Regions from separate parts of the Homo sapiens genome. Here region 2 is linked to region 1. The links come from fine-mapping of genetic effects on gene expression. A gene starts in region 1. The other region holds a variant in brackets. All regions are shown on one strand. Distances are from middle to middle. Region 1 holds the start of ABCB1 (ATP binding cassette subfamily B member 1). Region 2 overlaps ABCB1 (ATP binding cassette subfamily B member 1).

What was found. PIP is the estimated chance that this variant, and not a neighbour inherited with it, causes the effect.
Region 2: its variant is the best candidate, but not a certain one, in a credible set for the expression of ABCB1 in testis (GTEx, PIP 0.86).

Annotation. Positions count from the first base shown.
Region 1 is chr7:87,598,662-87,603,059 of GRCh38, reverse strand. ABCB1 (ATP binding cassette subfamily B member 1) reads left to right here and starts at 2,176. Exons shown (of 28, transcript NM_001348946.2): 1 at 2,176-2,305; 2 at 2,870-2,943. The coding sequence starts at 2,876. RefSeq lists enhancers at 3,275-3,664, 2,874-4,073.
Region 2 is chr7:87,506,601-87,510,998 of GRCh38, reverse strand. It overlaps ABCB1 (ATP binding cassette subfamily B member 1), which reads left to right. Exons shown (of 28, transcript NM_001348946.2): 26 at 1,518-1,724. Among named protein-coding and RNA genes, the nearest start is that of ABCB4, 33 kb to the right of the region's middle. The variant T/C (reference allele first, on the strand shown) is at 1,670.

The sequences.
Region 1 (4,398 bases):
AGAGCGGAGGACAAGAAGGTGCAGATTGTGGCAGTCACTTCAAATGGAAATATCACCGCTTGAATGAAGGTATATGAGTGTCAACTTGCAAGGGGACCAGGTAGGTTTCATCAGAAATTAAGGAAGCTTAAGGAGAACAGCCAAGTTCAGCTTGACAGAAGTGGTGGTGGCACAAATGCAAGACTGGTGTCTTTCAAGAAACCAAGGACTGTTGAAAGTAGCAAGAGCTAGTTTGTTTTAGGTCCATCATGTTTTATATTCACACTTTCATGTCAGTGGAGCAAAGAAATGGAATACAATATAATAGAATGGTAGAATCTTATTTTTAAAATCTGTGTTATTCTGATCTTTAACTTACTTATATCTTTGATAGAGATCTTTACCTGATGCTCAAGATTGTAGAAATAGTATAATCAACATAACAGTATAGCACTGTATTTATATCCTGCACTGTTTAGGGAGGGTTTAAGGCCATTCAAAAGGATACATAAAATACAACAAGATTACATAAATGAAAGGTGAGATAAAGCAACAAAGCAAAACAAAAGTGAAAACAGAGATCATAGGCACAAATAAGATTAAAAACGCATGTAATGAAGATGAAAGCTTTTACATTTACCCCAGATGGACCACAGGGTTGTTGTTAAGCCTTTAAACAGTGAACAATGCTGTACACTTGCATATGCAATTAGAACATGTGGAAAAAATAGTGGCCTGTTAGAAGCCTAATTAACAATTTGTGAAAAAAAAAAAAAAAAAAAAAAAAAGAGGCCGAGCTGTAGCTCACGCCTGTAATCCCTGCACTTTGGGAGGCCGAGGCGGGCGGATCACGAGGTCAGGAGATCAAGACCATCCTGGCTAACACAGTGAAACCCAGTCTCTACGAAAAATACAAAAAATTAGCCGGGCGTGGTGGCGGGAGCCTGTAGTCCCAGCTACCTGGGAGGCTGAGGCAGGAGAATGGTGTGAACCCGGGAGGCGGAGCTTGCAGTGAGCCGAGATCCTGCCACTGCACTCCAGCCTGGGCGACAAAGCAAGACTCCGTCTCAAAAAAGAAAAAAGAAAGAAAAACAAAAGAAAACTTCATTGTATTGTAAGGCCAAGAACAAAATATATCAAGATAAGGAAAATTTGTAGTCAAGAATAGAAAAAAATTATGGCTTTGAAGTATGAGTTATTTAAAGAAAGTGGAAACATCCTCAGACTATGCAGTAAAAAACAAAGTGATTTTCTTCTTCTAAACTTATGCAATAAACTGATAGGTAATATGTGAAAGTCATAGAATGTAGACTAGAGGATACAACAAACCTATTTCCTCTATGTTCATAAGAAGTAAGAAAAGCTCTGATGTGAGTTAGCATTGCTTTACAATTTTGAATTGTGCAGATTGCACGTACTTTTCCTCAGTTTGAAGTAAATAGTGGACAGGAAAAAATATTAAATGTTGGCAGTAAATATGGAAGGAAATTACAACTAATGTAATATGCTAAAACATGCTATGTTTATTTTACTAATTTGAATTAAAATGTAAGAATTTAAAATGCCCTGGAAAAACACGGGCATTGATCTGACGTCTGAAGTTTTAAAATATTACACACTTTGAAATAGCATTTGTACCTTGAAATACCTGTCTCTATATATTTTTTAAAACTTCCTTTTTCTTTCATTCCATTTATCATCAAATAAAGGATGAACAGATGTAACTCAGAAACTGTCAAGCATGCTGAAGAAAGACCACTGCAGAAAAATTTCTCCTAGCCTTTTCAAAGGTGTTAGGAAGCAGAAAGGTGATACAGAATTGGAGAGGTCGGAGTTTTTGTATTAACTGTATTAAATGCGAATCCCGAGAAAATTTCCCTTAACTACGTCCTGTAGTTATATGGATATGAAGACTTATGTGAACTTTGAAAGACGTGTCTACATAAGTTGAAATGTCCCCAATGATTCAGCTGATGCGCGTTTCTCTACTTGCCCTTTCTAGAGAGGTGCAACGGAAGCCAGAACATTCCTCCTGGAAATTCAACCTGTTTCGCAGTTTCTCGAGGAATCAGCATTCAGTCAATCCGGGCCGGGAGCAGTCATCTGTGGTGAGGCTGATTGGCTGGGCAGGAACAGCGCCGGGGCGTGGGCTGAGCACAGCCGCTTCGCTCTCTTTGCCACAGGAAGCCTGAGCTCATTCGAGTAGCGGCTCTTCCAAGCTCAAAGAAGCAGAGGCCGCTGTTCGTTTCCTTTAGGTCTTTCCACTAAAGTCGGAGTATCTTCTTCCAAAATTTCACGTCTTGGTGGCCGTTCCAAGGAGCGCGAGGTAGGGGCACGCAAAGCTGGGAGCTACTATGGGACAGTTCCCAAGTGTCAGGCTTTCAGATTTCCTGAACTTGGTCTTCACGGGAGAAGGGCTTCTTGAGGCGTGGATAGTGTGAAGTCCTCTGGCAAGTCCATGGGGACCAAGTGGGGTTAGATCTAGACTCAGGAGCTCCTGGAGCAGCGCCCAAACCGTAGTGGCACTGGACCATGTTGCCCGGAGCGCGCACAGCCCGCGCGGTGCGGGGACCTGCTCTCTGAGCCCGCGGGCGGTGGGTGGGAGGAAGCATCGTCCGCGGCGACTGGAACCGGGAGGGAGAATCGCACTGGCGGCGGGCAAAGTCCAGAACGCGCTGCCAGACCCCCAACTCTGCCTTCGTGGAGATGCTGGAGACCCCGCGCACAGGAAAGCCCCTGCAGTGCCCATCGCGGCCAGAGCAGCTGGGGCATCAACGGCGGGCGCTCCCTCTTACTGCTCTCTGGCTTCGACGGGGGACTAGAGGTTAGTCTCACCTCCAGCGCGCCTGAGGCTCATGCATTTGGCTAATGAGCTGCGGTTTCTCTTCAGGTCGGAATGGATCTTGAAGGGGACCGCAATGGAGGAGCAAAGAAGAAGAACTTTTTTAAACTGAACAATAAAAGGTAACTAGCTTGTTTCATTTTCATAGTTTACATAGTTGCGAGATTTGAGTAATTTATTTCTAGCCTCCAGCTCTGAAATAAATGACATGTTGTTGTTTTTAATTATTTTTAAGAAACGCAAGCTAGCCTTTGGAATCAATATCCCTGCTTAGAGCAGAAGTTTGTTGGCTGAGTGGAGCACAGCATATGCATTTTCCCTGTCTTTTTTGTTCTTTCTTTTAATGATACATAATATTTTACATATTTATGAAATGGGGTACATGGAAGCGTTTTTTACATGCCCGGAATGTGTAATGATCAAGTCCGGGTATTTGAAGGATACATCACCTTAGGTATATTTCATTTCTATGTGTTGATAACATTTTAAGTCTTCTAGCTACTTTGAAATATACAATATATTGCTAACTGTAGTCACCCTCGTCTGCTATCGAACATTGGAACTTATTTGTCCTATCCAACCGTTCTTAGTCATTCACCAACCTCTTTTCATTTCACCTTTTTACCCTTCCCGGCCTCTTTCCCTTAGTCTTGGTGTGCCTCTTTCTCAGCTTTCCTGCCCCAGACAGGCGGATGCTCATATGTGTTTCTGTCTTATGAACTTCTGCTTTTCAAGTGGTGTTGGTCGCCCACACGTGAGCCATATGCTGCTGGTGATCTGCTCTGTGGTCCAGGCTCTTGCTTCCGGTAAATGGCTATGTAAACATCGCGTTTGTGGCCTGGCTGATGAGACAGAAGGTCAAAAGTACATTTAGGTTGTTAACTGGCAATAAATATCTGTATATAATATTGGTAATGTAATCATATAGGGAAAATAATTATTTAAAGTAAATTTTGATCATGGTGCTCTGCCTTTATAGAATATTTAAAACTTCACTAAATAGATTCATTGTTAGTAGTAAATTGTAAAATAGACTAGTAAGTTTAATAATATTAGAAACTGTAATGTAAATTATAAGATAAATTAGTAAACACATTAATATTATAAGAAACCAAGCTTTTCAGTGTAAGAGAAAAAATACAAATGTGGAAATCAAATACATTTTTAAAAATAATGTTAAGTTTGAATTAGAAATTTCAATATGAATTCATAATCTTTTAATAGTTCATTTTCAGTCCACTGAAAGGGACAGTAACAATGAGCACTGTTAGTACCAGATCTGGGTTTCTAAATACCATTCCTCCCTAAAAGAAATGAACCCCTCAGTAGCTAATTTCAGCCAGGTCTGGGACAGGAAAAATAGAAAGTGAGCCTGGAGTATCTTGTGGTACCTGAAAATAAGGAAGTGGAGTTTAATGGAGTAGTCGAAAGCACACTGAAGCTGTCTGGAAGATGCTTCCAATGGCCAACTCTGGGACAATTTGAGCATCAAAGAACATCGTAACTGTAACTGATTTTGAGATACTGAATGCTACTGCTGAATGCTTAATATTCTGAGAGAAGGGAAACTGAAAGAA
Region 2 (4,398 bases), 92 kb after region 1:
CTGGAAAATTACAACAAAAACAAAAGCAAAAACCAAACTCCTCCTTTCCTTAAATTTCCACTTCTCAAGTACAGTGTTTTATCTAACAAGATCTGCTGCTTAGCCACATCCTTGTTTGGCTTTCACTGTCTCTCTCCACCCTCTACTTTCCACCTTCATTTATTAACATTGTAAGGAAGCCTGGAGCATACATGTGTGGAATAGTCTCCATGGCAACTCAGCTTGGAACTAATAAGGTTATGGGAGAGCTTCCATCCCTGCACCTGCCAGTGTCACAAGCAGAAGCCATGTTCCTGTAGCAAAGATTGTACTCTACTGCTAGGCAGCTGTCCCCTTGAGCCACCCAGCCAGGCACATGGGATACAGAGAGTATATGGCTCAGCACGCACTAGTCACTACTATTAGAAAAGCTCAAAGCTGAGTCACTGGTGCCTTCTTCAGAAGGGATGAACAGCTCTCTCACTTGAATGCCAGAAAATTATCTTGCAAAGCAGACCTATCTGATAGACATATTTGCATCAGAGTAGGGCTTGTTATCAGCAAGGCTGTAAGGTGCCCTCCCCAGTCTTCTGCAGGATAATCCAGGGAGCCAGATTATAGAGAAAGGGCAGCCCTCTGTTCCTACTCATCTGGCTCAGTATTGAGGATCTCCATTCACCCTTTCCTACCCCTGTTCACCTATCCATCCCCTGTAGTTCCTGACCTGCAAAGCTATTATGTGGTCATAGTTGTTATTTATTTCCATGCTAATCCTGGGCACTGTTTCTCTGAAAAATGGAGATTTAAGAATAAGGCTGTCAGGATACATCTCAGAAGTATTAGGCGTTGTATTAGTGTGGCTGCTATAACCACTTGCCACAAATTCAGTGGCTTAAAACAACACCAATTTATGACTTTACACTTCTGGAGGTCAGAAGTCTAAAATAGGTCTCAGTGGGCTCATATCAAGTGTCAGGAGGGCTGTGTTCCTTCTAGAGGCTCCAAAGGATGATCTGTTTTCTTGCTTGTGGCCCCTTCCTCCATTTTCAAAACCAGCAGTGGCTGGTTGAGTCTTTCTCACACTGCATTTGCTGATACTCTTCTCCCTCCTTCTTCTTCAGTTAAGAGCCCTTATGATTACATTAGTTTCACCAAGATAATTCAGGATAATCTTATTTTACAGTCAGCTGATTAGCAACCTTACATCTACTACTTTAGTTTCTTTTTGCCATGTAACATAACACATTCACAGGATCCAGGGATTAGGACACAGATGTCTTGTGGGAGAGGGAACATTATTCTGCCTACCACATGCATACATCAGAAACCATGGTTGAAACACAGGAAACATGACAGTTCCTCAAGGCATACAATTATGACCTTGTTGGGTTAACCTTCACTATCCAAATTTTAATCACACAAACTTTTCCTTAATCTCACAGTAACTTGGCAGTTTCAGTGTAAGAAATAATGATGTTAATTGTGCTACATTCAAAGTGTGCTGGTCCTGAAGTTGATCTGTGAACTCTTGTTTTCAGCTGCTTGATGGCAAAGAAATAAAGCGACTGAATGTTCAGTGGCTCCGAGCACACCTGGGCATCGTGTCCCAGGAGCCCATCCTGTTTGACTGCAGCATTGCTGAGAACATTGCCTATGGAGACAACAGCCGGGTGGTGTCACAGGAAGAGAT[T/C]GTGAGGGCAGCAAAGGAGGCCAACATACATGCCTTCATCGAGTCACTGCCTAATGTAAGTCTCTCTTCAAATAAACAGCCTGGGAGCATGTGGCAGCCTCTCTGGCCTATAGTTTGATTTATAAGGGGCTGGTCTCCCAGAAGTGAAGAGAAATTAGCAACCAAATCACACCCTTACCTGTATACAAGCATCTGGCCACACTTCCTGTTTGGGTTAGTTGTTACCTTTACCTGATCACCTGACCCTCCTTGTGAGGAAGGGATGAAAGTGTTCGACCACTTCAGGTTTAGGAGAGAGGAACATTTCTGGGATAGGAGAACTGGAACAATTGTCTTGATCCAAAGCTATAGGCTTGAGGCTCCACCTTTGTCAGCCTTAGGGGTAAGTACAATATCTGGAAAGCCTTTCACTTTAAGTCCAAGTACAGAGTCTGGGTCCCCACCTGCACATGCTGCTTCTGGCCTGCTGAGGAAGTAGGCATGACTGTCTCTCCCCATGTCTCTCCCCTATTTCTCTTCCTTCTTCCTCCTTGCAGCTCTCTCCCAAGCCTCAAAACTCACTGTGGAGTCAGTCCAGTCCAGAGGGCTGAACCCATGCCAGAAAGAGTGCTCTCTCTGAATAAGGGTTGAACCATTAAAGTGACCATGGTATCATGTAATCTCTCATCGTCATACATTTCATGGGCCCCAAACTTTGTTTACAGTGAATGGTTGAAATCTTTTCTAGGGCTCCCTGGGCTGTGGTCCTATGGGTGTCCTCTGAATTCCTCCTAGGAAGTTGGATAAATGGAACCTCTCATCCTCTCTCAAGCCCTCTTAGGTCCTGTGTATTAGTTTTTGTGTTTTGTTTTGTTTTGGAATACAAGTTGACTATTCCTTGTCCAAAATACTTGGGACCAGAAGTGTTTTGGATTTTGGAATATTTGCATATACATAATTCACTTATATTTCATGTATACCTTATACACATAGCCAGAAGGCAATTTTATACAAATTTTTAATAACTTTGAGCATGAAACAAAGTTTTGACTGTGTTTTGACTGTGACCTGTCACATGAGATCATGTGTGAAATTTTCCACTTGTGGCATCATGTTGGTGCTCAAAAAGTTTCAGAATTTCAGATTTTGAATTTTTTGGATTATGGATGCTCAACCTGTATTAAAAGTCCAAAATTAGATTTTTTCCAACCTTTATTTTAGACTTAGGGGGTACATGTACAGGTTTATTATACCTGGGTATATTGCATGATGCTGAGGTTTCAGGGTACAAATGATCCTGTCACCTAGGTACTGAGCACAGAACCCAATAGGTAGTTTTTCAACACTTACCCCCCTTCCCTCCCTACACTAATAGTCCTCAGTTTCTATTGTTGCCACTTTTCATCTATGAGTACCTGATGTTTAGCTGCCACTTATAAGTGAGAACATGCAGTATTTGGCTTTCTGTTCCTGCATTACTTTGCTTGGGATAATGGCCTCCAGCTGCATCCATGTTGCTGCAAAAGTTAGGTCCTATATTTTGAAGTGCTTCTCAACCTAGGTAATCTACCTCACCCATTATCACCAGTTATGCTCTTTATTCTAAGGAAGTGCCCCCTAAAACAAAGCTCAGGAGCCTCAACCCGGCGGGGAAGACAGTTTCCTCACGAGGCAGGCAAGCAACACCAGGTGGCTCTCTTTCCCAAGATTCCCTTCTTCCATAGGCTCTTCTTTGGATAACTGCTGACACCAATCTCATTAAGTCCCAGGGAGGTGGCCTTGTCTCCCACTCTCCTTTCACAGTCTAGCCCAACTAGATAATTGACCCTTCTCCAGGCTCAAACATTTAAAACAGAAAGCTCCAATCCCCTTTACTGATGAGAGGATAGTGGTTCTCAAGTATAGACACGGATCAGCATCACCTGGGAACCTGTTAGGACTGCAGATCCAGCAATCCACGTTTTAAGAGCCCAGGTAATACTGTTGCAGGCTCAAATTGGGGAACCACTGGGCTAGGGGTTAATAAAACACAAACACAGAGAGTAACTATTATCTATCTTTTTAAATATACTTTGCCTCTCTGGCATTTGTCTACCACAGGACAAATCCTGGTCTCTAATCTGTCACACAGAACACACCTGTAGACACCATAATTCTCTTCCTCAGTGTCTAGACCAGGAGAGAAAAGGTAAAACCCCTAAGTCCTATTACCTAAGGATCCACTTCTCCTAAGTGATTAATACTAGGATTTACCTCACCCTGTAGGTGGCTGGTTTAGCTACCTCCTTGTAAGACTGCCGCACTGCCTTTATCTGCCTCAACAGGATCAGTACTATATCAAGAGTGCAACTAGTAAACCCTCCACTCACATGAGATACACTTCAGTGCTCCTGCCTTCTGAGACAGCCACAGCTCTGGGGTAGAGCCAGTCCCAAGCATCTGCCAAAACCTCATCTGGCGTCTTCTCCCTCTATTTACAGGGGGAAACCCAGGGCTGAGTGCCACAAAACTAGGGTTGCCAGATATAGCAAATAAAAATAGGCAACCCTGTACTAAAATTTCAGCCTGGAAATAATAAGATAGTATTGTTTTCTAGGTTACAAGTGCAGTCACATCCTGTTTCTGCTCTCTCCTGAGTAACCTTTAACTGCTGTCCCTATCATCATAGTGAATAGTTGGTGACAATTATCCATTGTGGGAAACAACACGGGAAGAATTTTGGGAGCACTCTAACAACAAAAATGTTTAAA